Linked DNA regions of Homo sapiens. The protein of the gene in region 1 purifies or fractionates together with the protein of each later gene. This does not show direct contact. Each region holds a gene or a part of one and is shown in the gene's direction. Other genes may lie near its edges. The genes, in order: DZIP3, DHX36, TOM1, ASNS, RIMS1, IVNS1ABP and RPRD1A.

The links.
Region 2: the proteins of DZIP3 (region 1) and DHX36 purify together in Homo sapiens (affinity purification with mass spectrometry, with the first as the bait; one study listed by BioGRID). This does not show direct contact.
Region 3: the proteins of DZIP3 (region 1) and TOM1 purify together in Homo sapiens (affinity purification with mass spectrometry, with the first as the bait; one large-scale study listed by BioGRID). This does not show direct contact.
Region 4: the proteins of DZIP3 (region 1) and ASNS purify together in Homo sapiens (affinity purification with mass spectrometry, with the first as the bait; one study listed by BioGRID). This does not show direct contact.
Region 5: the proteins of DZIP3 (region 1) and RIMS1 purify together in Homo sapiens (co-immunoprecipitation; one large-scale study listed by IntAct). This does not show direct contact.
Region 6: the proteins of DZIP3 (region 1) and IVNS1ABP purify together in Homo sapiens (affinity purification with mass spectrometry, with the first as the bait; one study listed by BioGRID). This does not show direct contact.
Region 7: the proteins of DZIP3 (region 1) and RPRD1A purify together in Homo sapiens (affinity purification with mass spectrometry, with the first as the bait; one large-scale study listed by BioGRID). This does not show direct contact.

Annotation. Positions count from the first base shown.
Region 1 is NC_000003.12:108,595,568-108,600,184, forward strand, and holds part of DZIP3 (E3 ubiquitin-protein ligase DZIP3), read left to right. Parts: intron 1-4,209; exon of another isoform or gene 4,210-4,319; intron 4,320-4,617. UniProt on the Homo sapiens protein: E3 Ubiquitin ligase proteins mediate ubiquitination and subsequent proteasomal degradation of target proteins.
Region 2 is NC_000003.12:154,314,488-154,319,104, reverse strand, and holds part of DHX36 (ATP-dependent DNA/RNA helicase DHX36), read left to right. Parts: intron 1-2,941; coding exon 2,942-3,066; intron 3,067-3,824; coding exon 3,825-4,059; intron 4,060-4,617.
Region 3 is NC_000022.11:35,326,718-35,331,334, forward strand, and holds part of TOM1 (target of Myb1 membrane trafficking protein), read left to right. Parts: intron 1-553; coding exon 554-670; intron 671-3,629; coding exon 3,630-3,763; intron 3,764-4,617.
Region 4 is NC_000007.14:97,854,961-97,859,139, reverse strand, and holds part of ASNS (asparagine synthetase [glutamine-hydrolyzing]), read left to right. Parts: intron 1-184; coding exon 185-286; intron 287-734; coding exon 735-862; intron 863-2,323; coding exon 2,324-2,450; intron 2,451-3,680; coding exon 3,681-3,787; intron 3,788-4,179.
Region 5 is NC_000006.12:71,889,089-71,893,705, forward strand, and holds part of RIMS1 (regulating synaptic membrane exocytosis protein 1), read left to right. Parts: intron 1-4,617. UniProt on the Homo sapiens protein: Rab effector involved in exocytosis. May act as scaffold protein that regulates neurotransmitter release at the active zone.
Region 6 is NC_000001.11:185,294,771-185,298,065, reverse strand, and holds the end of IVNS1ABP (influenza virus NS1A-binding protein), read left to right. Parts: coding exon 1-31; 3' UTR 32-1,678; downstream 1,679-3,295. UniProt on the Homo sapiens protein: Involved in many cell functions, including pre-mRNA splicing, the aryl hydrocarbon receptor (AHR) pathway, F-actin organization and protein ubiquitination.
Region 7 is NC_000018.10:36,029,188-36,033,804, reverse strand, and holds part of RPRD1A (regulation of nuclear pre-mRNA domain-containing protein 1A), read left to right. Parts: coding exon 1-97; intron 98-2,707; coding exon 2,708-2,814; intron 2,815-2,899; coding exon 2,900-2,997; intron 2,998-4,617. UniProt on the Homo sapiens protein: Interacts with phosphorylated C-terminal heptapeptide repeat domain (CTD) of the largest RNA polymerase II subunit POLR2A, and participates in dephosphorylation of the CTD by RPAP2.

The DNA of each region.
Region 1 (4,617 bases):
ATTTATAGTTTCAGAAATACACCTGATGGAAGTAAATAACACTTGCTCGGCATCTTGTAACTCAAATTTAGGGCTGTCTAGCTCCTTTATTTCTTCTGGAAAAATCTAGAAAGAACATATTGTCTTCTATCCTGAATATATAATCTCTAGTAACCAGGGTTTAAGTAATAGTAGATGAATTAGACTGAATGAAGACTTGAATTATAGCTTTGACAGAACTGCAGAGTTTGCAGAATACTAAGTTTTGTAATATGGGAATTATACCGGGGTGTGAACACAGGGCTAATTGTTCATTCATTCATCTCCTGTATATTTAATGAACACTTGATGCTAGGTCCATTTCTAGGTTCTGGGAATACAGCAATGAATCAAATAGACAAAAATTTCTGCCCAAGTTGTTTTCTTATAATGGAGGATATAGACAATAAGGCATATAAGTAAAATTACATGAATGATAGCGGTAAGTATTAGGGAGTGAAAAAAGGGAGGAGGAATAGGAAGTATCAAAGTCAGGATAAGGTGTTACAATTTTAGATAGGATGGAGTACTAATTGATGTATGCCAAATAACAAATCACCTCAAAACACAGTGGTTGAGACCATGAGCGTTTATTTCTTGCCCACAGATTTGTGGTTGACTGCAGTTTGTCTGCTCCAGGCCTGATTTGACTGGGTGGCTGTGCTTCAGCCTTTTCGTGGAGAGGGGCAGATACCTGGATTTCTATTTAGGTTATGTTGTGATGTTAGACATCCAGGAGAGATTGAGTAGGCTATCAAATTACTGGTAGTTAAAGGAGCGGTCAGGGTTGGAGATAGAAATTGAAAGCCTTGAGACTAAATGATATAGGACCAAGTATGGATAGAAAAGACTTTTTAGGACTGAACTCCCTGATATTTAAGTATTTAGAGGTTGGAGAAGTGTGGAGGAACTGGCAAAGGAGACAGAAGTTAACTGCAAGAAGACACAGGTTCTGTCTTGACGCCATGGTTGCCTACAGGTACCAGCTTTACTTGTAGCATATGAGCTGCCTCTTGACTTCTAAAGGAGAATTTTAGGTTGGCCAAGAAGGCTGTTACAATCTACACACGGGCTCCCTCTTTACATCTGCCTTCAGAGGCCTTGAGGTGTGCAGAAGGGTGGGTGAGTTCATTTTTTAAAGCAATATTGAGTGCTTAACGTGTGCCAGGTGCTATTCTAGGCACCAAGGAATGAAAACAAAGTTTTCCTAACTTCATGGGGCTTATATTCTAGTGGGGACATGAAGCCAAATCTAAAACTGAGGGATTATTCAGTAGACATAAACGGCTGGTAGAACAAAAGTTTCACTGGCCCAGTTTCTAAAGCATGAAATCAGAAATCCTGCAGTAGAAAATTGGCACAGGTCTAGGCATGGGGTCATTTAGATAACCATGTGCCCAATATAGCTAAAATAATTCAAATGCTAATATTAATCTGATTCTACCCCTTATGCAGAGTCAGGAAACTAAGTGTATGATTAGTGTCAACTCATATTTTTCAGAAATGTTACCTTTGTCACAAAGCCAGAAAATCTAAAAAAAATTAATTCTCCTTTTACAATTATTTTTCCTGTTTTCTTTCACAAGTATCAAGTATTACAGTTCAGCTAAACTCTAAATGATTTGCCCAACCATGAAGTTAACTTTCACTTTTCAAACAGTTTCTGCTTTTTCTTTTTATACATTTCACAGCATTCAACTTTAGGTTAAGAGTACAAGGTTTGAATATTTTGAGTATATATTCCCCCATTTTCATATCTTATACCACATCTCAAATCTAATCACATCTATCCCAGAATAAGAATGTTGCCTTGCCTTTTTTTTTTAATGCAAGTACTATCCATTGTTTCTGAATCCAGTGTTAAGTATAAGTAGAGTGTAAGTAAAGATGAAAATGATATACTTTTAAGTTAAGGAACAGTAATCCTGGTAATTACTATTTCTTGAAGACCTATCTTCAAGATAGGTGCAGAGCATGGGTCTTTGCTTATCTCACTTTTAAATTTCTGGTCTTTCAGAAAATAAATACTATCAGGCTTATGAAATGAGTGGATATCTATTTCCTGAATTAAAATGTGAAGCTGTTTTCGAAGACAGTAGTGTCCAGAGTACAGTATGCACACCTCAGGGGATATGTGAAACTGTCCATTGAGGTGTGGGAACAAATATTAAAACGTTTTTTACTTGCTTTTATCTTATTCTTTTTTTATGTTATAATAATTATGCCTGCATATAATTTATAAGTGAATTGATATTCTTATATTTTCAGCATATTCTCAGATCTTTTACTGTTTTAGGGCTATGTGATCAAAAAAGTTTGGAGATTTCATTTTTAAAAATCTTTAACTTTGAGAGATCATTTAGCCAGGTGTGAACTATTGTCCATTTCATTGTTTATTTCAGTACCATGTATAGTATCTGAATTGTTTTGTTGAATAGAAAAACTCTTAGCAAAAACTAGTGTGACTAGTGACTATGAAATATTAGGCTGGCATGATTAATAACTTTTATAGTATTACTAAGAATGTGTAAATAGTTTCATTTCTGAGTATGCATATGTGCATATTATCTAGTCCAGCTCATAATTATACACTAAGCTTATATAAAATTAAATATGTTACTAGAAGTAATGGGACATGGAAGAAAATAGAATTGCAGTTGGTAAAATTTGGGCATGAATTTCTGCTCTTACGGATTTATTAGCTATGAGACTCTATAAGCCTCAGTTTCTTAATTTTTAAAACTTATTACAATAATGTTTATCTTCCATAGTTGTGTAAAGATCAGATGTTTATTCAAGGTGCATAGCTTAGAGCGTGGCACATAGGAGCTGATGAAAATTAAGCTTATTTTCAATGCAACCCAAGGTAATACACTCAGTTAATACTATATGAAAAGAAACTCTTTATAACCAAAAGCTCGCTCTGCCTTCTTACCTACACGCTTCTTACAAATGTATGCTTTTCTGAGATAACAGTGAGCTGCCAATTTTCTTACATGGGGTGGAGCAAGCTGGAGGTGGATAGGGCAAGCTTTCATTGGTGGTGGTAGAGGCAAGTACATGAAAGAAGTATTCCCATTCCCTATTTGATTACCATCTCTGCGTGCGTTATGTCTCAGGATTCTCCCTTCTTTTCTCATTATCTAACAACTATAATGACAACATAATATTTTTAAATTGCTGAAAATATTCCACCTTTGGAGTATGTGCTTAGGGGTAGCATATGCTTCTTCCAGTGGTTTCTAGCTACGTTTCTGAAGAGTGTGGTTTTAGCAGTGCTATCTGTAAATGTTTGAAACTGATGGCTTGTTTAGTATCTGGATAGTTTTTCAGGTAAATCCTAACTTGTGCATATTCATTGTAGGCACATTCCAACTATTCAAAACAAATTAATATGTATACTATAGGTTTACCTGTGTAAGTCCAAAAGTAACTAATTGAATAGATCTGAACAGAATTTAAAACCTGCTTAAGACAAGATGTTAATTTTGCTTTAGGAAAGGATGTTTCCCATGTTGGCAGATTTGTAACAAGGGGTGATGAGTATACATTATAAGGCACTTATTTCCTGGTTTAAGCAGATATATTGCTAACAGTGATCTTTGCAAAGTGGCAAGAGCTAACATAAACAGTGATCTTTTGGGATAGAAAATATCTTCCAGTTTCTGATAACTTTTGCAAAGATTTTTCCACCATCATCCATAAGTTCTGGAGTTTGAATAAGCAAACTGTATGTTCTTTGGGAGCAAATAATATTTTAGCTACTGGTGTCTAGGTGTATTTATTTTGTAGCTTTACCAGGAAGTTAAACAAATTAAAAAATGGAGAAATTAACAGTAAATTATAAAACCAAGTAATCAGTATATTTTGTTCATACTAATTATTGCTAATACAAAATAATGGTGCAACTTGTTAACTTGTTATTCTTTGAGTCTAACCTAATGGCCTCAGCCATTTTTGTCTACACAGAGCTCACTAACATACGAGAAATAAAGACTTTCATAGTGCTGTAACCACAGAACAACTGCACAGTGGACCGAATGTTTGTGTCCCCCCTCATTCAGTGTTGAAATCCTAACCCCCAATGTGATAGTATTAGGAGGTTGGGCCTTTGGGAGATAAATTAGGTCATGAAGGTGGAGCCTTCATGAGCAGGATTGTAAAAGGCCAGAGAGCTCTCTCACCCTCTTTCTACCATGTGAGGATACAACCAGAAGTTAGAAGTCTGCAGCCCAGAAGAGCACCCTTATCAGAACCAACTTTGCTGACACATTGATCTCAGACTTCTAGCCTCCGGAACTGTGAGAAATAAATTTCTGTTGTTTCTATAGTACTTTACTATAGCAGCCCCAATGACTAAGACAGTCATTTCAAAAGCCACAAAGAATGGCTAGTTATTGCTGCTAATCTAGCAGATGTACTCAGATCAACAATAGTTAAAATTCTGATTCCAAGGAACTCCTATCACAAAATGTCCTGCCATGTTCTTTGAAAGTGTTTTCTTCAGTGTTTTTAAGGGTTGAAGTGACCATAGCATCTTGATGTGTCAACTTTGAGGAGTTTTTTGGAATTCTTTTGGTAAAATTTAGCAGAAATGAT
Region 2 (4,617 bases), about 46 Mb from region 1:
GCAAGATCCAAGTTTGGAATTAAGGTATGTTCTCTGCTACCTGCAGCATCCAGAAACTCATTGTGGGGAGAACATCATTAAAAATACAAATGTTTTTATTTAGAGTGTAAATTACATTTTCAAGGGCTAATCATACATGCTCATTGTAAAAGATTCAGCTGTTCATTCCTTCCATTGACAGACTTCTCTGGGGCACATACCATGTACCAGAATTATATCTGGCAGAGACACTGCAAGAAGTATAGGATATGGAGAGTGAATAACCTCTTTTCAAATTAATAGTAATAAAAACAAGATCCTACTACACAACTGACTTATTTAATACTTTGGTCATCTTTCCTGTTTATATACTTGCAGAAAGATCTACCCACTGTTAACCACTGGGTGTACTACAATTCAACTAATTCCTTATTGATTAGCAGATGCTTACTTGGTACATATGCATTGTGTAAGGTATCTTAAAGTCTACCAACTGATGTTGACTTTTTAATGAAAATGAATTTTGTTGTGATAGTTTGGACTGGAAGATTGTGTAGATCTGTTTATTTTCAGTAGACTGTTATGTTATCCAGTAATTCACCTTTTCCGGGGGCGTGAAATCTCATAAAATTAGAATAATCTTTTGTGCTGTTACGGGCAGGAAGTGGGCAATGTATTGTGAAATGTCAATCTAGGAAATTGTTTACTAAACAAAATATAGAGTAATGAGTTAACATGGAAAAGTGAGAACTGTAGGAATAGCAGATATAGGTTATATTCTAACTAAACAGATACATCAAAAAACCTTAAGAGGACTTTTAGTAGAGACATTTTATGTCCTGACAACTGAAATTAGCCACTCATTTTCACTTCAAAAAAGGAGGTAACATATAGTTCATTTGCTTTGCTTCTTCAGGTTTGTTGTTTTATCACTGATTTCTCATATTTATTACATTAGGTTATCCTCCTACCCATGTAAACTTATTTGAGCTTTCACAAAGCATGTAATACTGATTAGAATTAGAATGTCTTACAAAACCCTGTCTCTTGTCTTAAAGATGCTTATGTCTTGTTCTCCTGGGACACATACTCCTCTACCCACCCTGGGTTTTCAAACTTTATGTTAAACTTTGTTGTGACCAGCTATTTTGGTGTTTGTTTAATTGGGATAGAATACAGTGAAGAGAAGATAAGAGTTGCACTGTACAGAGTAAGGGAAGTATTTTGTGAAATTACTTGTATATGTGTGTACTGGGTCATTAGTTTTACTGTGGATTGCTATAAAAAATAAACAATTGAAATCTATTGCTCTAGATTTTACAGTATTTTACACATTGCTGTCTGCTTTCATCAGTCTCCTTACCCTAGCTCCTGCTTCCCTCTTTTTTCCCCAAAAATCAAAACCAAACCTCAAAAACCAAAAATACCTTGAAGATCATTCCCAACTGCCTAGTTGTTGGATACAGTAGTAATTTTTTCAGTTCTCTGCCTTACTTACGTCCATTTTATACTTCTGAGTCCTTTTTTAACACCTTTCTTCACTTCATAGGAGTGGTTTTCTCACTGTGTGCTCCTAGTCTTTTGTTTGTTCTCTTGATTACTCCTCTGACTTATTTTCTTGCCTTGGCCCCGTGAATGCCAGACTTGGTCATCCGTCTGTCCTCATCTTTGGAGGTGGTATTATTTGTAAATTAAGAGAATTCCTGTGTCTCTGTGATTTCAACTTTGCAGAACACTCCAAAATTTCTATCATAACTCTAAAAACAAAACCTCTCAGAGATCAATTTCCATATATTCATCTACCTAGTCATTATTACAAGTCGGGAAATTTCATCTTTGTTCTTAATTGCCTAAAATCCAAACTTAGCATCCTATTGTGACCTCCATCACCACCACATGTACACAAAAATGTACAGTAACACAGAGCAGCTTCCTTTTAATGATTCATCTTACTGCTGCTCTCTCAGGATCCACCCTTGAATTTGAAAACAGTTCTTTGATTCTTTCTTCCTTTTTGTCTCTCCCCAACTTCCACCAAATAGTCATTAAGTCCTGTGGTTTCTTTCTTTCGATTTTTGACTGTTTTCTTTCCATTTATACTTTTACCTTCCTCCTCCTTTGGTTCTTTAACCTAACACACTCTAATTTTCACCACTCCGCGTGTGTTTCCTTTTGCCTGTGGATTTATATGCACGTTAGAACCTAAGGTTTGTAGTCCCATAAATTTTGAAGAATCTGTTTTTCAACTTTTCAACTTACTATATCTAAATATAAAAGTCTCCAAAGAATTGGGTTTTGGCATTCATTCTCTTTTTTTTTTTTTCACCTTGGACATTTCTTAGATGCGTAAAGTTTCTGCAAAGTTTCATAGTTCACCAAGGACCTTTATATTTGTCCAGTCTGTTGTGTTTTATTCTCATTCTTTGAAGCAACTGCGTCATTTGCCACATTGGATCACCTTATAAGCACTGATGAATTTTATTTACTCCTTCTGAGCTCAGCCTTACTTACCAATTTATTCTTCTGTTTAGTGTAAGAACTTTCAAATGTTCATTACAACCAAACTATTTCCAGTTTTCAACTTTTTTCGTAAACCATTTGAGTTTTAATAACTTTGAAATTTTAAGATAAGGAGAAATTCATAATAATTAGTATGTGAGGGTTTGGGGTAAGAGAACCAGAGTTGTAGGAAGAGACATAAATGAGCTTTCTTTGCCAATCATATTAGGGCTAATTTTATAAATGCTTGTTGGAAAAGGTCTAGAAGGATATGTACGAAAATTTTAACAATTAATTAGGTCTAGGAAGGGGGGTATTGGGCTAGAGGACACCTGTGGATAACTTTCTTTTATATGTATTTGTTGAACATATATTACTTAGCCTTTATTTTCTTCAGTATCAAATAATTTTTGCATATGCTTTCTTATGTTGACAAGGATGCTTTTTTCTTTGCACAAACTAGAGAGCTGTAGTACACATGGATGAACGACGAGAAGAACAAATTGTACAGTTACTGAATTCTGTTCAAGCGAAGAATGATAAAGAGTCAGAAGCACAGATATCCTGGTTTGCTCCTGAGGATCATGGGTACGACAAGAAATATTTTTTTAAAGAATAGGCAAAGAGTAACACTTTAATAATAAAAATAACATCTTTATTTTCTTCGATAAGTGAATTTTAACCTTTACGTACTTTTTTTCCTTATGTAGATTAAACAGATTTAGAAAATGACTTTTAAAAATTTAGATGGCATGTTTCCATAGGAAAGCTAAATGGTATGAATAATAGTGTATCTGGATATGAGATGTATTAAGTTGTTATTTATTGTTCTCCCTACCTGTCCTCTTTGTATTTATGAAATTATTCTGTCTGGGAGATCTGCAAGAAGTGAAATTGCTACCGTTTTAGAAAGATTACAAGAACTGTATCATTTAGAGGAAAAATTAGTACAAGTATTTCAAAGACTGTGTATTGTAGCATCCTATTTGTAGCTCAGAAAGGGTGGCAAGAAAAAAAGATGTTGTGACATAAAACAAGTTCGAGAAATCCAGAAAAAGAGAAACACTGTAAGTAACCGCAGTGAAGGAATGACTATTCTGTGGATTTTTATTTTTAACTATCACAAGGAATAACTTAATCTGGCAATATCTATTTAAAGGGAAGAAAAATTTGAATTTATTATAAGAATCTAAGTATATTTTCATAATTACTGTACTAAGAGAAAAGAAAAGCTTTGGATTTGGATGACTTTGAAATATTTCAACAGCGTATTGTTTTGTTTTGTTTTGTTCCAGTGTTTGAGTGGCTCATCTGACCTTTCTTCCTTTCTTATTTTGTCAAAACAGATACGGTACTGAAGTTTCTACTAAGAACACACCATGCTCAGAGAACAAACTTGACATCCAGGAAAAGAAGTTGATAAATCAAGAAAAAAAAATGTTTAGAATCAGGAACAGATCATATATTGACCGAGATTCTGAGTATCTCTTGCAAGAAAATGAACCAGATGGAACTTTAGACCAAAAATTATTGGAAGATTTACAAAAGAAAAAAAATGACCTTCGGTATATTGAAATGCAGGTAGTAGAAAGATGTCAAAAAATATTTTGTCATTTTTTTCTTACACTTTATAAAAATGTATGTATGGTTAGAGGTAGCTGCATGGCATAGATCAGTGAGATCCTCAACAAGACATCCCTGTGGGAATTAATTTCTTTTCGAATGGTAGAGAAAAGCAGTGGGAATGGAAGTTACACATAACCTACAGTATCCTATCTCATCCACAGAAGCTTATGTGGTGAGAAGAAATGTTTGAGAAATGCTAGTGCCAATGAAAAAAAAACTTACTCTTCAGCTTTTCTAGGCCAGTTTAGTGAGGTGCCATGTGCAGTAAAGGCAGTTAAAATTGTAAAGCTTGTTCCAGATTACTTAATACATCTTCTTTTTATAGATGATAAAATTAAATATTTCAAAAATTATGTGATGTGCTTTGTTCACTAACATTTTAAATACAGGACTATCACAACACCTGAGATCTCCTGAATTCTGATATTTTCTTTCTATGCTAGGCAAGATATTTTAAGGTCCCTTTCAGTTAAAACATAAAATTGTGTGATTTGTGGGTGTTCTAGAGATGTA
Region 3 (4,617 bases), on another chromosome or scaffold:
AGAGGGCGGGATCCCAGTCCTCTAGGAGGAGAGAGACGGCGGGATCCCAGTCCTCTAGGAGGAGAGAGGGTGGGATCCCAGTCCTCTAGGAGGAGAGAGAGGGGGGGATCCCAGTCTTCTAGGAGAGAGGGCGGAATCCCAGTCCTCTAGGAGGAGAGAGAGAGGGCAGAATCCCAGTCCTCTAGTGGGAGAGAGAGAGAGGGCCTGCAGCGTCCCTCCCCGCCTTGTGGGGAGCCACCCTCCAGGGCCTTGTTAGCTGCTGTGTTAGACCCAGGAGATGCTGGAGTCTTCCAGCCACACGTGGTGGCTCATTCCGGTGTGGAGATGGTAACGGTTGGTAGCGCCTCTGTGAGGGGTCTGTAGAAGGGGTGGGGCAGGCCTCTAGTGCAGAGCTGTCACTTTGGGAGCCAGGAGGGAGGCTGCCTAGAGAGGCTGCTGGGAGGTCGGCTCCCTGGTGCTGCACCCAGGGTTGGTGGTACTGGGTTCTGTCGCTGTGAGTAACATGGGCCCCAGAACCCTGGCTTCTCTCACCACGATCAACTGTGTGTTTCAGATTGGGAAGCTGCGCAGTGAGCTGGAGATGGTGAGTGGGAACGTGAGGGTGATGTCGGAGATGCTGACGGAGCTGGTGCCCACCCAGGCCGAGCCCGCAGACCTGGAGCTGCTGCAGGTGAGCAGGTGGCACCACCCCCTGGGGCTCAGATGACTCCTGCCCAGCTGCCCACATGCATTCTTTCCCAATCCTCATGACAGTCTTCATGGCTTACTCCATACTCCTTGGTCACAGTTGGGGACATGTTACCACCAGGGACTTTGGACGCCATCAGATTGGAATCAGATCGCAGCTCTACCACTTTCTGGTTTGAACAAAGTAGCCCCCCTGGCCTCAGTTTCCTCATCTGTAAGATTGCTCTAACAATAGCCTTCATGGCACAAGTTTGATGTGAGTTAAATAAGGTATTGCATGAAAAACACGCAGGCTTGTGCCTGGTACAGAGTAAAGCACCCAGTAAGGGGTCCTGAGAAAAAGCTGGAAGGTGAGATTTACACCATTCAGAATCCGAGACTCAGCAGGCAGGTGTGAGAGGGTGGTGCCAGCCTTGAGATGCGCCAGCCACTGATCTTGGGGAGCCAAGGCAGGTGGAGCTAGTGGTTCCTGCTCCCGGGTGTCACATGGTATTCCCACGGCCCCAGCCCAGATTGGGGGTCACTGGAGCAGAAGGGACACTGAATTTGGCAAAAAGCACCCTCCCCATGGAGGCCAGTCATAGAGGCACCAAGAGAGCTAGGAATCCCCAAGGCCCAGGAGTCACCAGAATCCATGAGGAGACAGAGCGCTTCGTGTAACTGTTCGAGTTCCTACTGCTCGTCCACCAGGCCTCAGGCTCCTTGAGGGCAGCGCTGTGTCTTCCTCGCCACCGTGTCTGTGTGCCTGACCGAGCTGACTCTGCAGGGGTCCTCACTTGGTGGTGCAGGGTGGGGAGAAAAGGAGTAGCCTCAGAGTCCAGTGAATACACAAACTTGAAACCCAGTAAGGGCTCCGAAAGAGAGAAGACTGCGCAGGCAGCCTCGCACGCCCCAAGCCAAGGCCATGAGATGTGAGCAGTCTGGGGACTCAGAAGGCTGAGCAAGGTGGATGCAGGGACAGCTCCCATGCACTGGGCACTTCCCGTGTCCCGGGCTATATGTGGACACTTGGTTCACATCGCTCACGTAATCCTGACCACCCCCATTTTCCAGGTCAGGAAATAGGCATAGGGAGATCAGATAACACGTCCAGGGTTATATGGCTGGTAAGTAGCAGAGCTGCGATTTGAACCCGGGGGCCTGGCTCCAAGTGCTGCTCTTCTGCTCTTGAGAGGGGCCAGCAGGGAAGCAGAAGCAAAGCCACCGTGTGCTTGGTCATAAGAGCAGGAGGGGAGCCCACAGGATGTTGAAAGGCACCCGCCCTGTCCCCGTGCTAAGGGCGATGAGGAAATCCCGGAGGCCTGACCTTGGAGGGGGCAGGGGACAGGGTCCACATGACAGCCAAAATAAACACTGGGCAGTGCCGAGCCTCAGCGTTGCCTCCAGGAGAAAGGCGTGCTGGCGTGAGGCCACAGTCGGCAATGCCGGGCAGCTCCCTGGACCTCAGGACCCAGGCACCTGCCGTGACCCAGGAACCTTCACCTGGTGGCAGGTACCTGAAGAAATAATTGACCAATCTTAAAAATGAAAACCCATATGGCTATGGTTTTTTATTTTTTTATTTTTTTTGAGACGGAGTCTTGCTCTGTCACCCAGGCTGGAGTGCAGTGGCGCGATCTCGGCTCACCGCAGCCTCTGCCTCTTGGGTTCAAGCTATTCTCCTGCCTCAGCCTTCCAAGCAGCTGGGATTATAGGCATACACCACCATGCCCGGCTAATTTTTGTATTATTAGTAGACACAGGGTTTCACCTTGTTGGCCAGGCTGGTCTTGAACTCCTGACCTCAGGTGATCCACCCGCCTCGGCCTCCCCAAGTGCTGGGATTATAGGCACGAGCCACCGGGTGTAGCCATTTTTTTTATTTTTCATAAGTTTAAATATGACACCTAGTGGTTAAAAGTCGGTGACGTGATAACTAAATGCAGTGTAGGATCCTAGAACAAACAAAGGACATTAGAGGAAAAACTAGTGAAACCTGAATAAAGTCCGCAGTTTAGTTAATAGTATTTTACCAGTTTTAATGTTTAATGGTAGTTTACCAGTTTTGACAAATGCCAGACTAAGGGGAAGCCAGGGTCAAGGGTATATGGGAACTTGTGGTACTATCTTTGCATCTCTTCTGTAAATCTAAAATTATTCCAAAGCTAAAAGTTTGTTTAAAAAGACAAAAAATCAGGCAGTGAGAAAAGTGAGGCAAAAACTCGAAATCGAGGTTTGTGGCTAATGGTTGCAGTCATCTAGTTCATTCTGTATGCTTTGGTTGCAAAAATCACAGCATACCCCCAGAAGTTGTGGTTTGTTCAGCCAGCCCCCTTTGCAGACTCAGTTTTTTTTTGACTAAGCAAAGATGGTGGCACAACCTTTATTCTGGAATCTGCACGAAGCCAAGTTAAACCGGCAGCACAGTTGGACATGTTGATGGTTTCCTGTGGATTAAATTTTAGCATCTAACACTTGGAAGTGAAGTTCAAGTTCATGTTTGTAGAACCCAAAAAGCTGTTCCGTGGAACCTTGAAGTCCAGTTTGGGCACCTCACCCTCCTCCAAGGCTTGTGCAGGGGCTGGAGGCCCGTGCATTAGAGATGGCCTCACTTGGCCAGGCGCGGTGGCTCACGCCTGTAATCCCAGCACTTTGGGAGGCCGAGGCAGGCAGATCGTGAGGTCAGGAGATCGAGACCACCCTGGCTAATATGGCGAAACCCCGTCTCTACTAAAACTACAAAAAAAAAAATTAGCCAGGCGTGGTGGCAGACGCCTGTAGTCCCAGCTACTTGGGAGGCTGAGGCAGGAGAATGGCATGAACCCAGGACACAGCTTGCAGTGAGCCAAGATCGCACCACTGCACTCCAGCCTGGGCGACAGAGCTCCGTCTCACAAAAAAAAAAAGAGACGGCCTCACTCTGAGTCATGTGACTGTGGTTGCCTCACTTCCTTTCCTGGCAGGAGCTCAACCGCACGTGCCGAGCCATGCAGCAGCGGGTCCTGGAGCTCATCCCTCAGATCGCCAATGAGCAGCTGACAGAGGAGCTGCTCATCGTCAATGACAATCTCAACAATGTGTTCCTGCGCCATGAACGGTAGCCCCAGCACCTCCCCTGGCCTCTGGCCTACTGCCCCAACCCTCTCCCTTCCCTTCCTCCCTGTTCTCCTGGTCTCATGCCATCTGAGCCTTCTCTCGTCCTCCTCTCAAACACAAGGCAGGCTCCTAAGGGCCTGTGCCCTCAGCTGTCTTCTTCCAGGATGTTTATGAGGGCCCCTCCTTCCAGCCGCCCTGTATCTCCTTTCCAGGGTTAGCGCTGCTGCCTGTGCCCAAGTCCAGCCCTGGGAGATGGTCACAGGTCACAGCTGAGAGCACGGCCCTGCAACCAGACTGGCCTGGTGTGTCCTCGCCCACTCCACCACTTCCTGGTTCTGGGGCCTTAGACAAGTGACTTCACTGCTGCAAGCTACACAAAACATTTCTGGCTAACTTAGGCAGAAAAAGAATTTGTTAGGATAATAATCTTTATTAAATGGGTAGCTTTCAGAATCCAGAGAAAAGTGAAACTGATGTCTCCCAACAGAACAAGAAAGATGGATCCCAGGGCAGCTCAGATGTCTCAGGAGCAGAAATTCCTGGACCATCTCCCCAGGGTGCTGCCATCAATAAATACATCAGCTCAAACACTTGTCCACAAACACCTGTCCACCTTTTTTTTTTTTTTTTTTTTGAGGCACGATCTTGCTCTGTCACCCAGGCTGGAGTATAGTGGCATGATCACAGCTCACTGCAGCCTCAACCTCCTGGGCTCAAGCAGTCCTCCCACCTCAGCCTGCCAGGTAGCCGGGACTACAGGCATGCACCACCACACCCAGCTAATTTTCTTTTCTTTTTTTTTTTTTCTTTTTGCAGAGACAGGGGTCTCACTGTGTTGCCCAGGCTAGTCTCAAA
Region 4 (4,179 bases), on another chromosome or scaffold:
TTTGAATGATTTTAGTTTCAAGACCTACTTCCTATTTTGTTTGGAGGGAACACATTAAGATTTGGCACACTCCACCATTGAGTAAATACCATCATGATAGATGTTGATGATTGTGTATTTCATTTCAATAACTAATCCAGCCCAAGATTTTCTGGAGCTGTTTGATTTACTGCTGTGTTTATAGGTTTTGAGATAGAAACTGTGAAGAACAACCTCAGGATCCTTTTTAATAATGCTGTAAAGAAACGTTTGATGACAGACAGAAGGATTGGCTGCCTTTTATCAGGTGAAGTCAATTAAAAAAACCTAATTATATTTCATGTGTGTTTAATTGAAATGATTTGTAGCCATCCCTTTGGTTTTTACTATAAAATATTTACTGTATGATTTACTCTTTCCTTCATTATAGGATGGAAATGATTTTTTATAAGCTGTATTTAATAGTCATAGTCATACTCCAACTTGAGTTACACTATAGCTATGTTATTGGTGTTAAGAGTGAGTCAGTGAATGTTCTTTAGAATTCTGTGTAGTGATTTTTAACCAATTCAAATACTACTATTATCACAGTTTATATATTTTTCTCTTGTTGAAGTTGATTTCAGTTTATAAAACTTGGCGGATTTTAAATAGTAAAACTATGATCTTGGTGTTTATCAGGAATATACATCTTCTGTCCCTGTCTTATGCAAGGCACATAACTAGGACACTTCCACTTCCTCTTTTGCATGTAGGGGGCTTGGACTCCAGCTTGGTTGCTGCCACTCTGTTGAAGCAGCTGAAAGAAGCCCAAGTACAGTATCCTCTCCAGACATTTGCAATTGGCATGGAAGACAGCCCCGATTTACTGGCTGCTAGAAAGGTAAGGTGCTGTCTCTGTCCCTTGTGTAGTGTAGTTAGAGTAGACTTGTTATTAGAATGAAAATGGAGTCAATAATGGGTGATTCTACTGCTGCTGTATTGACTGGGTCAATTGTTTTAAATTGATTGTATTAAAATAGAATGAAATGGCTGTTGGATATGCACTGTGTTGTACACTGTCCTCTGTGTACTTTTATCTGTTATGACCCATGCAATTCTCACAAAGACCCTATGATGATAAGTATGCTCTTTTGAAAGTAAAGGTGTCTGGGCATGGTGGCCTACACCTGTAATCCCAGCACTTTACGAGGCTGAGGGAGGTAGATTACCTGAGGTCAGGAGTTTGAAACCAGCCTGAGCAACATAATGAAACTCCATCTCTACAAAAAAATACAAAAACTAGCCAGGCTTGGTGACGCATGCCTGTAGTCTTAGCCTTATGGGAGCCTGGGTGACAGAGTGAGACCTTGTCTCAAAAAAAAAAGAAAGTAAAGGCATAAGTCAGGTGCAGTGGCACACACCTATAGTCCCAGATACTTGGGAGGCTGTGGGGGGAGGTCTGAGCTCAGGAGTTCAAGTCCAGGCTGGGCAACGTAGCAAGACCCCATCTTGAAAAATTAAAAAAACGGGTTTTTTGTTCGTTTTTTTTTTTTTTTTTTTTTAAACGTAAAGGCATAGTATCATGGCTAAGACTGCAGACTTTGGAACCTGACTTGTGGTTTGAAATCCTGGCTCTACTCATTTATGTAACCAAAATAATAGTGTCTGCTATGGGGAAATTTTAAGGTGAAATGATATAATTCATGTAAAGTAAGTAGGGTAGAACTTAGCATGTAGTAAGTACTTAATGAGTGTTAGCTGTTATTATTATTTTTGAAAGTACTGTATTTAGAATACTGTGGGCAGAGGGCAGCTTGTCTGTATTCAGTGAGCGGGAGACCTAGTTCCCACTATGGAGGACTTTCGTAGCATGGATGAGAAAAAGCTAGAGAGCAGTCTCAGTGCAAGGTAATCAATGCCGAGAGAATCCAAAATAGCCAAGGAAAGCAGAATGAGGGGAAGGGCCATTCTATATAAGAATAACATCCTGGATATAAAATTAGGCATTTAAGAAGGACCAAAAAAGACCAAGCTTAGCGTGGGACCATGTTGGACTAGAGAGAGATGAGGTGGGTTAGGTAAAATAGGTAGAGAGGGAGGTGCCAACTGGGAGAATGGTTGAAGCCTTGGCACCAGAGGAGCTGAGGGGAGACTTACTTCCTGGTGGTGGAGTTGAAGCAGGCGAGGGAACAGTGCTGGATGGGGCTTGTATGTGGTGGGCTGTAAAGTCATTTTTCTTTTTTTCCCTTGTTTAGTTTTCACCATTGTTAATTCATAAAGCTTTGTGAACTCCCATCATGTTTGATTTTCAAGGGAAGTTATTTTCTTTAACAAGTAAATGGGTATTTCTTTATATAATAAGGTGGCAGATCATATTGGAAGTGAACATTATGAAGTCCTTTTTAACTCTGAGGAAGGCATTCAGGCTCTGGATGAAGTCATATTTTCCTTGGAAACTTATGACATTACAACAGTTCGTGCTTCAGTAGGTAAGGTATTATGATATTCTTAAATAAAAAGCTTTTTTTAATACTGAAAAAAATGTAAGGTTTAAAAAAATTATTTCAAGCCATAGTTTTAAAATGTTATTTAAGGATGAATGCAAATTAAATCCCTATGTTACTGATTATTTAAGACCACTTAAGAATTCTCTGAATCTCTTTTGGAGTGAAGGGAATAGTAAATACGTAGTTCAACCTCCACATTGTTGGTGTCACTGTTGGTGTTTCCCCAGGGAGCAGATACATATTTTCTGCCCTCTACCTCCCATTTCTCTTATAGTTTCTTGGGCTACAGTCTATATACAGTGAGGAAATAGGTCTTTTTGGTAATGCATTTTTGATAAGAAATAGTCATTTTAGATATATTCCATCACACAACTTACCAGTCACTAGCTATCATTGCTCTGCAAACAATACTAATTTTATCTTGTAGATAATGTATCTACTGAGATTGGAAGTATACCCCAAATCAGACTGATCCAGTGTTATTGAGCCTTTATATGCTACTGCCTCCCTTGAGAGACTTGCCTTGGAAGGCAAAAATATCTTAGGTATTACAATGGTTTATGGCCCTCCAAAACATCACAGTAAATAAGCAGATAGACAGGATAGCTCTGGTATTGGAATTTCATGGGGCTGGGGTGAGGTTAGGAAAATAAGTGTCTAAAAAGGCTCTCTAGCTGAGGTGATAATAAAAACAAGGTTGAGAAGAAACACTGGTTTAGAGAGATGTGGTGCAGGACCAAGGAGGCAAGTTTAATAACTTATATAGTCTCCCCAGCTTTATGTGAAATCTGGTAAATGGGGAGTGGCAGGGGGAAAATACCCATCAAAATTAACACTAAACCACCAAAACGGTTATTCTTATTTTTGTGTCATAATACCACTATGAAAGGCATGATTTTTAGGTATTTGAGTCATTGTTCAGCTTAGCAAAGTTTTGAGGTGGACATTCTTGGTCTAAAAACATTAGAATTTTAAAACCTGTTTAGAAAATGACAAAATGGTTCCGGGTTATTTTATTTTACAGTAGTACTTTTGGATTAAGTACATATAAATGGCTTATAAATACAAGGTCATTATTGTGGAAACTACTTTATATTAATATGAAGTCCAGTATAGTAGTAAAGCTTTCAATTATTTCCAAAAATCAAATCAAAGGCATTTTTGGTGGAAGGTTATGTTGACATTAAAGTTAATTTCTCTCTCTCATTTAAGGTATGTATTTAATTTCCAAGTATATTCGGAAGAACACAGATAGCGTGGTGATCTTCTCTGGAGAAGGATCAGATGAACTTACGCAGGGTTACATATATTTTCACAAGGTAACCACTCTGAAGTGGAGGGATATTCATGCTATATTAAGAAAAGTATGAATTGTTTGACTATTTTCTATCATCTTTCAGTATGACAGTGATATTTTTGAGTATCTTGTGAGGTTACAAAAGGGAATCTGATAGTGTTTGCTTTCTATCTCTTGGGGAAGAAAGAAATTTTAATGTGTCAGATAATTTTTATTCTTTAAAACTAGTTACAGCTGGGTATGAGGGCTCATGCTCATACCCCCAGCTGCTGAGGAGGCTGAGGTGGGAGGATCACCTGAACCCAGGAGATTGAGGCTGCAGTGAGCTGTGATTGCACCACTGCACTCCTGCCTGGTTGACAGAGTAAGACCCCGTCTCTTAAAAAAAAAAAAAAAAAAGTTAAAAATAAATAA
Region 5 (4,617 bases), on another chromosome or scaffold:
GCTGCAGACAGCAGGTGGATGGAGGCCTCCAGTAGCTAGTGGAAAATATAGGCTGCTGCTTGCCAGAGTCCGGATAGGAAGGGGAAGGCACGGTGCAAGTAGTGGCCATCATGCCTCTTCATTGGCTGTCTCAAGCATGGTGGAGAGTGAGGGATTTTAAGTGGGAGTGGGTGAGTTTTAGGACAGAATTCCAAACCTGCTAACTGCCAAAGGACAGCAATTATAAGATTGTATGGGCTTATATGGGCAAATAAAAATTAGGAGCACTGTCCAACTGCTCATGTCTAACACATCTTTTCCGCTGCTTTTCCTGTGACTGCTTTCTACTGGCTTGCATATATTGTTCCTTTGTTGCATGGATTCACAAAATATCACTGTATATGATGCTGTTATACAACAGCTCTCTATAATCCTGGACCTCTGTATTAACTTTATCCATCAGCCTCCTCTGCTAATGTCTTGGCCTTTTGTTCAGTGACAGATTGGTGAGTGTTTTGGAATCCCAGTTTGCTGCCATGTAAGCATGTCATATTGTCTGCAATTAGTGGAAAAGTGCTGTAATTTTTTTTTATAGGGGACACTTTATGTCTTAAAAACTGGGGATAATGGGAACTATTTAGATGACACATATATATGAGGACATAATGACACATAGTCATAGATGGTGGCCTTTTTAAAACTTTGTGTTAAAATAGATTGGAAAACAGGATTCTTTTAACAGGGCTTTAAAATATTGTTACATCAGAGAAAAGTTTTTGTGGTAATTATGGGTGATCATAATCACACATCTGAGAAATTACTTTCACAAAACGCTCTACAAAGCTTAAGTTCTGGCAATACGGCAATTAGACTTAAAATTCACTTGTGTTATTGGTGCAGAACTATCTCCTTAAGCTACCTACTGTGCATGCTGTCTCTTTTCACAATGTATAAAAATAGGCGCAGAGAGAAAATAGAAAATGATGGATGAATATGTGAAACCAACATTATAAAATATCAATTAAAATGTATTTGTAAGTTTCATCGGCCTTGATTGTAAATTACTAGTTGAATTTGGCTTTGAGAATGTCTTTAAATATGTATAAATGGAAAAAAATCAAGCTACTTTAAAATCAAGATTTTAGAAGATTTTATTTGAAATTGAAAGTACTTTATCATAAAAAGAATTCGTTTTGTTGGCAAAGTACACTAATTTTAAGTTTAATGGCCATATAACTGGAAATAGTTGGCTCCCACAAATTATGTTTAATGATTGACTTAATTATCTGCAAATTAGAGGTCTTTTCTTAATCTTAATAGTGTTTTGGATGTGAGTGTGTGTGTTCTGAAGGCTTTCTGAAACCTAACTTTCTCGATGAATACTCCTTCAAGTAACTGTTACTAGACATCATGAGCCAATATATTACATAGGCTGAAAACTGCATTATCTGGGACCTAAATCAGAGAAGATCTCATTAGATCTAGGATCTTACTCCTTTTTGTAAAAAAAAAAAAAAAAAAAAAAAAAAACTTCATAGAGAAAGCAGCTACTGAATAGTAAGAGAAGAGAAAAAATGTAGAGAGTTAAGGCGATGGTTTGAGGATGAGAATCGAGTACCATATTGGAATATAATGTAAATAGGTAACATTTATTGAACATTAACCTCACACTAGCTCTTATTTTAAGTTATTTAATCTAATGCCAAATAGTTAAACTGTGCTCAAGTTTATTATAAGTATAAATATTTGGATTCTCACAATAGCCTGTGCAGAAGGTAAACCAAATAATATAATTCTCACATCCTCACACTACCCTCAGAGAATTTAGTAATATCCTAAACTGACTCACATAACATGGTCCAATCATGATTCAAAATCAGACCTTTTAGTCTAAATCCAAGTATTTTCCCGTACACTACACTGTCTTCCTACCAAGAAGCAGCCTATATTTCATTTATATTTTCTTTAAATGAATTTATAGTCTTTTCTCAGTTGCAGAGAAGTGGCTTGGCAAAAAATTAGGCTGATTCAGATCAGCTGCTGATCACAGCAGAGCCTGGGGCTTCACCTATACTCTTTCATAGAGTGTTAGAAGGTAATAAAAAGCATCACAGTGTAGTGGAAAGACCATTAAGTTTGTATCCGAGTGTTTTTAGGTTCTAGTTCTAGTTCTGCCACTTACTGTGCAAACATGGGCAAGAAAATTAAATTGAGATTGTATGAAGTTTCATTTTTTTCCTACAAATCCTTCAGTCCATGGTATGAATTGATTTATAAAGAGTATTGACTTTGGGCTTCTCCTTCTCTTCTTAACAGGTCACCTAGCATTTGCTTTCTAATCATCCATAATTACTACTTTTTTCCTGGAAAGGAGAGAGAAAGTAGAATGAGAAGAATTCCTGTAACTTCAGCTTTCCTCCTCCTTTTACTTACTTTACACAAATATAATACTGTGGCCTGAAATATATCCATAAGGTTCATTATGAGAGATCCCAGTTACCAACTGGGAAAAGAAGAAAAGTGGAAGGAAAATCTGGGGAACCTTGAGGGGGATGAGGATAGCGTTCCTATGTATGCAGGTATCATATTTTCATTAGGGTTTGAAAAGATTTTAATATCTTACACCCCAAAATATGAAAAAGGCATTATTTAAGTAAATACATTACTAAATTAGAAGGAGAATATGGAAACCAGTGTGGGCTGGATGTGCTACTGCTGACTTGACTAATAGAAGCATAATGTCTTGGGAATGTTATTTGCTCAACTTTTTAAACGAGGAAAACAATTTTTGTAAACTTGTGCAGTGAGCTTCCTGGAAAGATATCAAATATGAATTCCTAAAATCATATTATTATCCGCCCATACCTGTAATAAGCAGATGGATGAGGTTGCAGTACCATGGCTTATAAAGTCAATTGTATTGCATTTAATTTGTCCTCATGGGCTGTTTTCTACTTTTATACATTTGGTCCTGTGAGTTGGGTATTTTAGAGTTGGTCCTGAGAGTCAAAGTAAATTTGCCTGAGGCACGTGGCAGCTAGCATAATGAATCCAGAATCCATGTACACTGACCTCAAACCATTATTGTTCTTTTAAGTCTTTAAAAAAGTGCATTGAGTGCTGGCTATTATGATTTGTTTCCCTCATCTGTTGGAAAGGAAACTAACATTTATCGTGTACCTTCTATGTATTATGCATTTGACTGGATGCTTTACAAATTTTACTCACCCAGGCTCACCTCTTGAAGAGAATTCTAGCCTGTGAGTATTTATTAGTTTTCCAATGTTAGTGAAATTCCCAGAACTAGCTTGGCATCTTCCTGACCCTTTGCTCATGACATTTGATTCTGGAGTCCAGAGAACAAAACTTAAAGGAGTGAGAGAGGAGCTTCATGTGGCTAGTAACATGTTCCACCCTTTTCTGAGGGTGGACTCTCCAGAACTGTCTGGCTTCCGCAGTTCTGGCCCCAGGTGACTCTCTAACCCCATTTGTACCTGGAGTTTTCCTTATCTGCTTGCTGTTTTGCCCACAGGGTTCCCTAATACCATAGCATTTTCCCACCATTCCACCTAACCATGAGTTATCTTTGTTTGCCACTATTGTTCTGAATTTTATTTATTAAATAGGCTATTTCTAACAAAGTGTCATATGATATTTAATTCAACAAGACCATTGTTTCAGGTATTAGAATTAGGTCAGGCATTAGGCTGCTGGGGTAGAATAAAGGCGAATCCTCTGCTTACAGCCCAATGTTGGCTGAGTTCCTATCATTTTAAAACTGCCGTAGTCAGAAAAAGAGGTGAGTGCTGGATAGTTGGATAGAACACTGGACTAGATTCTGGTCTTAACATTATGACTTTTTATAGGTGTGAACATTGTCAAGATAATCCATCCAAGCATCAGATTTTATATGTAAAGTGGAATTTATAATGGCAGTCCTTCTAATCTGTGAAGCTTTAAAATGATAGTGGAGTCATCATATCCTCCAAATTGCTGTTTCCAAGAAAGGTGCCATTATTATGCTTATTTGTTAAAACTGTAGAACACCAAGATTATATTTTCCAGTAGTCTTTGAAGGTACTAGGGGGCTTGGGAAGATGAGCTCTTGGAGAAGAGCCCACCTATCCTTTCATGCTAGCAATGCAGTGTTGCCAGGGTTGCAGCTCCCAGTGTGAGAATTTGACAAGGAGTTAAAAGGTAAAATGAGTTCAGGGCTTGGTCTGAGACTATATTTACCTTCTTTCTTTTCTTTTTTTTTTTCCCCTCTCATTAAATAGCTCGTACATGTTTTTAGCACAAAAAGCAATGTGGGCAAAGTGATAAAGTTTGAAAGATCTAAAAGGCAATCCTAATTCAAAAATGAGAAGAGAAATTAGCTTGGGGTAATTTCCTCATCTTTTACAGAAAAAAATTTGGAGAAATACAGTAATAATTTTAGTGTCACTGGGTTTAATAAATTCTTCATTTTCAGAATTAGCTGAATAAGGGGTCATGTATATTTGTCAGGTAGTTTTCTTTCATGTCAGTTTACCATTGAGTGATGTAATAAATTGCATGTGTTTAAGAACTTTTTAAGATTCTTTATTGGATGCCTTAGGTTTTCTGTATTTATATTCTCACATTCTTACATCGAGTTTA
Region 6 (3,295 bases), on another chromosome or scaffold:
GAGCCCCTATACAAAGATTTTCCAGTTTTAACAAATTTAAGACCCTCTCAAACTAACAGGCTTAGTGATGTAATTATGGTTAGTAGAGGTACACTTGTGAATAAAGAGGGTGGGTGGGTATAGATGTTGCTAACAGCAACACAAAGCTTTTGCATATTGCATACTATTAAACATGCTGTACATACTTTTTGGGTTTATTTGGAAAGGAATGCAAAGATGAAGGTCTGTTTTGTGTACTTTTAAGACTTTGGTTATTTTACTTTTTGGAAAAGAATAAACCAAGAATTGATTGGGCACATCATTTCAAGAAGTCCCCTCTCCTCCACATTTGTTTTGCCAATTTGCACATTAAATGACTCTTCCCTCAAATGTGTACTATGGGGTAAAAGGGGTAGGGTTTAAAGATGTAGACAGTTGGGTTTTTTAAGGGCCCTTTTTCAATAACTGGAACACTCTATAACAAAGGATACTTATTTAAATAGATGACATTGACTATTTTTGTTTTTATTAAAAGGAAGCTTACATGCCTACCAATATTTAATCTTTTATGATTGCCTTTTTATAACTTTTTATATTCTCAGCAGAGTGCTTTACCAATTGAAGTAAAATGTGGCAGGCTGGAGTTATTGAAGCAGAGTGGCAGTCTTCAGTTTGCAGAGTAGGGGTCTGTCTTTTAAACTCTGAGTGCAAACTTCAGAGTTCTTGCCTTGGCTGCAGTTTTTTTCCTTCAAGAATGCAGTACTAACATTTATTTGAGTGGAGTTACTGAACAGTAACATAGCTGTGATTTTTGGTATTTGAAACACTGGTTTTAAATATTTTGACTTGTTGAGGGTATGTTTTATATAGCAAGACATTATATAGCAGTAAAAAATGGTGTTTTATCTTCTATATAATTCCTGTTTTTATTATTAACAAAACAGTCCTAAATAGCAGCCCTCAATTGTGAAAAAATTTACTTTAAACTACATTAGGTTGTGAATGCAGGTTTTATCAGAACTATGTTTTTGTTCAGTTTATCTGTTCATATGGATAAATATTGGTTGGGATGACTTGGTGTCTAATGTGTAGTGCTACACACCTAACTTATGGGGCCAAAATAGCATGTCCTAATGCTTGCTGCTGATTTAAACACATTAAAGGTACTTTGCAGGAAATCCTTGCACCATGGGATTAATATCCAATTGCTGCTTGTACACTCATTCATTACTAAAAGTTTTGAGAAATTTTTTTTTCCAGTAATGAGCTTAAGAAATTTGTGGAAAATAACTCACCTGGCATCTTACATCTGAAATAAGGAATGATATAAGGTTTTTTTTTCTCACAGAAGATGAAGCACACAGGAACCTAATGGGCCAACTGGGATGAGGTGACTATTCTGAGATGACTATTCAGTGGCTAACTTGGGTTAGGAAGAAAATAATTAGGTATTTTCTCCAAATGTTCACTGGTACTCTGCCACTTTATTTCTCTCATCTGTTACACAAAGAACCACCAGGAAAGCAAATCAGTTTGGTTGGTAACTCTGTAATTCCTAACTATCACTGGTTTGGTTCTGGACTAAAACTACATTGACAGATTGAATTTGCCTAATATGATGACTGTTTTTAATATGGATCTGTATGTGTTCTATTCAGCACAAGGAAATAAAATTTTAGTTGAGGATTCAGCACTAAAATCCTTGAGATCACTTCTCATTTCATAAGTGACATGCTTAATGCAAATAATATATGGGAATACTTTGGGTCAAAGTTTTCCTGCATTACCTTGGATGCCAAAGAGGTAGTTTGGTGGCCAAAAAGTATCTTTTTTTAAGAAGCTGTTGTAGCTAGTCTGCATGAACATGAGAAGTTTCCATAAAGGAAAAAAAGCAGTGCTCAGTGGCCATTTGTTACTGTTAATCTGTATCTAAAAGGTACATACTTTCTTCAGAGAGGGAGAAAATGGCATAGCCTCAGCACAATTTAAAAAAAAAAAAAAGCTTTTTAACCAGTAGGAATTTTTGAATAGTTTCAAAATAATATTGATAATACCACACTTCTGGTCAACTTAATAAAACACTCTAAATTTCCTAAAAAGGTAGAAAAGCTATAAAATATCTAAACCAAATATTATTGGTTATACTCGGGTGGATCTTTTATTATGAACTTTAAATGTAGGGTTCTGATTTTTGGCTTCTAGTGTGTCATGTACTTTACCACTGCTCAACATGTTTTCAAATTCCCAATATAATAATCATATTTTAGGGAAAATCCAGGATTTGAGTATGTGATATATCATTAGAATCCTTGCTTAATTAACAAATTAGGTGTGTGCCCTATTACCTCTCCTGACCTCAGAATTCTTAAAATTGAAGTAGGCAAAGGAGGAGCCCCAGTAGGACATTTCTGTAACTGCATGCAGAGTTGCCTTCAGAAAAGTGAATATGATTCATGGAAAATTCAGTTGCTGTCGTAATTTACACGCAGCTGCTTTTTGTTCCAAAAAAAAAAGGTCTGAAGAGTCAGCAAGTGAGACATAAGATACAAGGTTAATTAACTAGGTGTAAAGGAGAAAGAAAAACACTCATATATGAATCCTTAAATCCTTGGTAAGACTGAGCTACAAGTTTCATCCTATAAACAGGTTTTATTAAGTTAAATCAGTGTCTCTAGGTTAAAAAGGAGTAATTGCTATGAATTGCAGATATCCTTCATAATAAAACTGCCAGTTTCTCAAGAATATTAATGACACTTTGAACAAGTAGAGTTTATAAACAGGAACATACAAACTCATGTGAATGTCATGGGTTCTTCAACCTATGAGCATCAATAATCTTGGCCAATAAAATAATGAACTTTATTAACAGCTCCACACCTTACTGGGTGGAGAGAACAAAGGTGAGAAGCAAAACTCAATCATTATGCTGGATCTGTGTGGAATGCCTTTAACAGAGGCATATATCTGAATAGAGGCCACACACTTGCTCAGGATGACCAAAGGAAGTAACATAATTTTAGCCAGAAAAAAAAGGCACACAGAAAGACCTAACTTGGAGTAATGAAACTACTGAGATGAAATGTCCAGCAAGGTAATAAGATGAGATCTGTTAAAACGATTTTTAAATGGGTAAAATATTTGAAGACACTTTGCAAAAGAAGTTGATGCCATAAGAACACAGGAAAATACTATCATAAATCATTAAGAAAATGTAAATTAAAACCAAAATGGCATACACCTATTGAAACTGAATATACCAAATTCTGCTTACGATGCAGAGCAACTTGAACTCTCATACATTGCTGGAGGAACTGCA
Region 7 (4,617 bases), on another chromosome or scaffold:
TAGCCAATGATGTCATACAGAACAGCAAGAGGAAGGGGCCAGAGTTTACAAAAGATTTTGCACCAGTTATAGTGGAGGCTTTTAAGCATGTTTCAAGGTATGATCATAGTTTTGGGTATTAGGTAATCTGTTTTAAATGTACCATATGTCCTTTTGCTAAAATTTGCCTTAAACTATTAAAATAAAAAGTAGGGAATATAGTTTTTTGATGCTTTTATTTGAAAAGACTTCCCTCTACATGGCATTTATAAATGTATTAAATGCCTTCTCTGAAGGAAAAATATTTTTTGAACTGTTGCTAAGGTGGGCCTTTGGAGTACTTGAATTACAGCTTTCCTTTAAGAGACCAGAACCAACTGCTATATTGGAATGAACTTCATTAAAAATGAATGAAGGTATTGAAGTAAAAATTTGTGTGTTTATAAAGCTATCAGTCTTGTAACAAATATTTCCATATACACTTAGTACTGTTTCTATTCTTTTTTTTTTTTTTTTTTTTTTTTTTGAGACAGAGTCTCACTCTCACCCAGGCTGGAGTACAGTGGTGCGATCTTGGCTCACTGCAACCTCTGCCGCTTGGGTTCAAGCGATTCTCCTACTTCAGCCTCGCAAGTAGCTGGAATTACAGGTGCCTGCCACCATGCCTGGCTAATTTTTGTGTTTTTAGTAGAGACAAGGTTTCACCATCTTGGCCAGGCTGGTCTTGAACTCCTGACCTCGTGATCCACCTGCCTCGGCCTCCCAAAGTGCTGGGATTACAAACGTGAGCCACCATGTCTGGCCTGTTTCCATTCTTTACTTGCCCTCTGGGTAATTTTGTACATCGCATGTATTTGGTTATTCTCCACACCGTAATGACTTACAGTTTTATGCTCCAGTCCAGATTTTTTTTTGTTCCAAACCTGTGTGCCCAATTGCCTTTTGACATTTTTACTTGTATGCGTCTCAAACATTTCAGACTCACTGTGTCTGATACAGAACTCATTATGTCCTTGCTTCCCACCGTACTTGTCCCTCCTGTAGGTTTTATACTCTGTGAATGGCAACTCGATCTATCCAGGTGCCTATGCAAGAAATTATGTTACCTTTAAACTCTTCTTTCTCCTTCAGTCCCCATATCTCACATAGTACACATTGACTCGGTTCTTTGGATTTCTTTCCCTTTTAGTTACCATAATGTATTTTCAGTATAATTTTAATGCCCTTTAGTATTGTTTAATTTCTTTAGAAAACTCGACAGAGTTGCAGAGCTGGTCATAATACTTCCTTGCCTTTGAGTGGTTCCCATTTGTTTTAGAGATGAAGTCTAAAGTCCTGAGCAAGACTTAAGGTGTTCCTTCGTGGCACTGCCTATCTCCCCAGACCTCTGTCTCGCATTTATTCCACACAGTCTATAGTCTACAGTTTAAGCTAAATTAACCTTTTTTAGTTCTTTCCGCCTTAAGTCTTCTATATATGTTGCCCCTCCCTAGAATTCAGTAAAATATTTATTGGCTGCATAAATATTTATTATATGCAAAACCCTGAGTAGTAGTGACCAAGACAGTTTTGTTCTACTGGAGCCTACATTTCATTGGATGACAAAGTTAATAAGTAGATAGACAAGTGAATGCATAATGTCAGATGACAAATGCTAGCAAGAAATACAAAGCAGGGAAGGAACTAGATAGTATGAGGGCGCTCAGTTATGTGATGAGATAAAGAACAACTATTTGGGGAAGGTGGCATTTGAACAAAGACTAAAGGAAGGGGTGAAATGAGCCATTTGACTAGGCAGAAAGGATTCTAGGTAGAGAGAATATGTGGCCGAAAAAATGAGATAGCTTATATGCTGGACATGTTTGAGGACCTTAGCAAGGAGATTTGTATGGTACTAGGTATTAGGGAGTGTGTACTGAGGGACTGCCAGAAAGCAGAGCATGTGGGCCTTATGGCCCAGAGTAAGGATTTTGGTTTTATTCTTGATGTGATTGGTAGCTCTTGGAGGATCAAGAGCTGTATAATCTGATTTACATTATTAGGATGCTTTGTACAGAATAGAGTAAAAGAGTAGAGGCTGGGAGAGCGTGAGAAGACTTTACAAAATTCTAAGCAAGAGATAGTAGTGTTTCTGTCTACAGTGATAGCAATGAAGGAGGTAGGAAACAGTTGGGAGTAGTCTGTTTTTCATTTCCCCATATGTCTAGTCTTAAGATCTCAAATTAAATATCATTTCCTTAAATACTCTTCCGGATATCTCTTAAACAGGGCCAGGTCTGTCTTAAGCACTTTGTTCTCTTTTGTGATACTTATAAATAACAACTGCCATAAGCTGCATTTGCATCTCCATGTCAAAGATAGTAACTGGATCAATAAGTATTTGTTGAATAAATTTAAAAAAATAACCTATGAGAAATCTTCCTTAGCCCCATGTCCAGGCCCCATTAGGATAGGAAATCCCTAGCAGCCAGTACTAAAACTTTTACAGTTTAAACTTTTTTTGGTTGTGTAATAATATGTTTATAAAATGTTTACTAGAAGCAAGCAGTGTGTCTAGATCACTTCACTTTTGAGCTGCTGGCCACATAGTGATGCTAAGTAGACATTTGGACAGTTTTTTCCAGGGAATGAATGTCTGATTATATTTAAAGTTACCGTTAACCTTTTCAATAACACTATGCATTGTTACTGTTAACATTTTTCTTTTTTTCTTTTTTTTTTTTTTTAGTGAAACTGATGAAAGTTGTAAGAAGCACCTTGGAAGAGTGTTATCTATTTGGGAAGAAAGGTCTGTTTATGAAAATGATGTATTAGAACAACTTAAACAAGCTCTGTGTAAGTGTAGAATCCTGATCTCTTACCTTGATCTCTTCATTAAAATGTATTCTTTCATTAATACTTAAATGTTCTTTCATTTCAGATGGTGATAAGAAGCCTAGGAAGCGAACTTATGAACAGATAAAGGTGGATGAAAATGAAAACTGTTCCTCTCTGGGATCTCCAAGTGAACCACCACAGGTAGAAATTTTACCCTGTTAAAAGAGTTACAAACTTTTACTTCATGTTGCCACCAAGCTTTATTAATTTCGTTTCACTTCTGTAAATTGATTTCTATTATACTTTTAGGTACAAGAAAGAAGCCACATGAATATCTCTTCCTCATTAACAAATTGCTTATGTTAAATGTAGTATGTTGTATATTGTATATTTTGCATAGAAATCATGTTTTGTATAGAAAGAGGATTTTTAATTGCCAAATATGGTTAGATGTGAGATGTTAGCTATTTAAACTTTTTAAAATAAAACAAAACATGCCTATTTTGTTATGTGATTTTTTTTTTTTGAGACGGAGTTTCACTCTGTCCCCAGGGCTGGAGTTCAGTGGCACTATCTTGGCTCACTGCAACCTCTGCCTCCTGGGTTCAAGCGATTCTCCTGCCTTAGCCTTCCAAATAGCTGAGACTACAGGCACGGGCCACCAAGCCCAGCTAATTTTTGTGTTTAATAGAGATGGGGTTTCACCATGTTGGCCAGGCTGGTCTTGAACTCCTGGCCTCAAGTGATCCTCCCACCTTGGCCTCCCAAAGTGCTGGGATTATAGGCATGAGCCACTGTGCCCGGCTCATGTATGATTTAAATACACTAAAATTTTCATTCTTGGACATAATCACTGCCCCTTTAAGTATTTTTGTTTTTAAATGTAAAAAGTAGTGTTAGAGTGGCCGGGCGCAGTGGCTCACGCCTGTAATCCCAGCACTTTGGGAGGCCAAGGTGGTCGGATCATGAGGTCAGGAGATCGAGACCATCCTGGCTAATATGGTGAAACCCCGTCTCTACTAAAAAATACAAAAAATTAGCTGGGCGTGGTGGCGGGCGCCTGTAGTCCCAGCTACTCGGGAGGCTGAGGCAGGAGAATGGCGTGAACCTGGGAGGCGGAGCTTGCAGTGAACCGAGATAGCACCACTGCACTCCATCCTGGGTGACAGAGCGAGACTCCGTCTCAAAAAAAAAAAAAGTAGTGTTAGAGTGATATATATGTGTTCATACATTTCTTTGTAACTATATAGAACTATGTAATTCTGTGGAAAAATAAGTTAGAATTATTATCTTAACACTCTGTGTCCTCCTACATGTTGGTATGGTATGGTATTCCTTAACCATCAGATTAATTCCAGAAAGACTTTTTTTTTTTTTTTTTTTTAAGTGGGCATTGAGTCTTTAAGCTTCCTCCTTCTATGTTTCAAACATGTAGGCGGGACAGATAAAGTGTAAAATGAGAAAATGAAGACATAACCATACTCTTAAAACAAGGCGAATGTATTTTCATGGGTTAGAAATTGTACACCTAACTTCATAGGTGAGACAAAACCTGGCTCCTGCTGAGCCCTGGTCCCGAAGCAGACATGGGGTTGCCAGAAATTAGTATCCTTTAAGGTCACAGGAACTCACAAGGGCAACAGGAACTCACAGTGCTCCGTGGGAGTTAGAGGACTGGTTCCAAATTCACTGAATAAAATCAGAGGCTGGGAGGAGCTCTTTCCCCCATGAAGGTGAAAGAAAAATACAATCAATTACTACCTGTAACTGTGGATTTATATTAGTCTCAGTACTGGAGAAGCAGAAGGAATCAGACCAAGG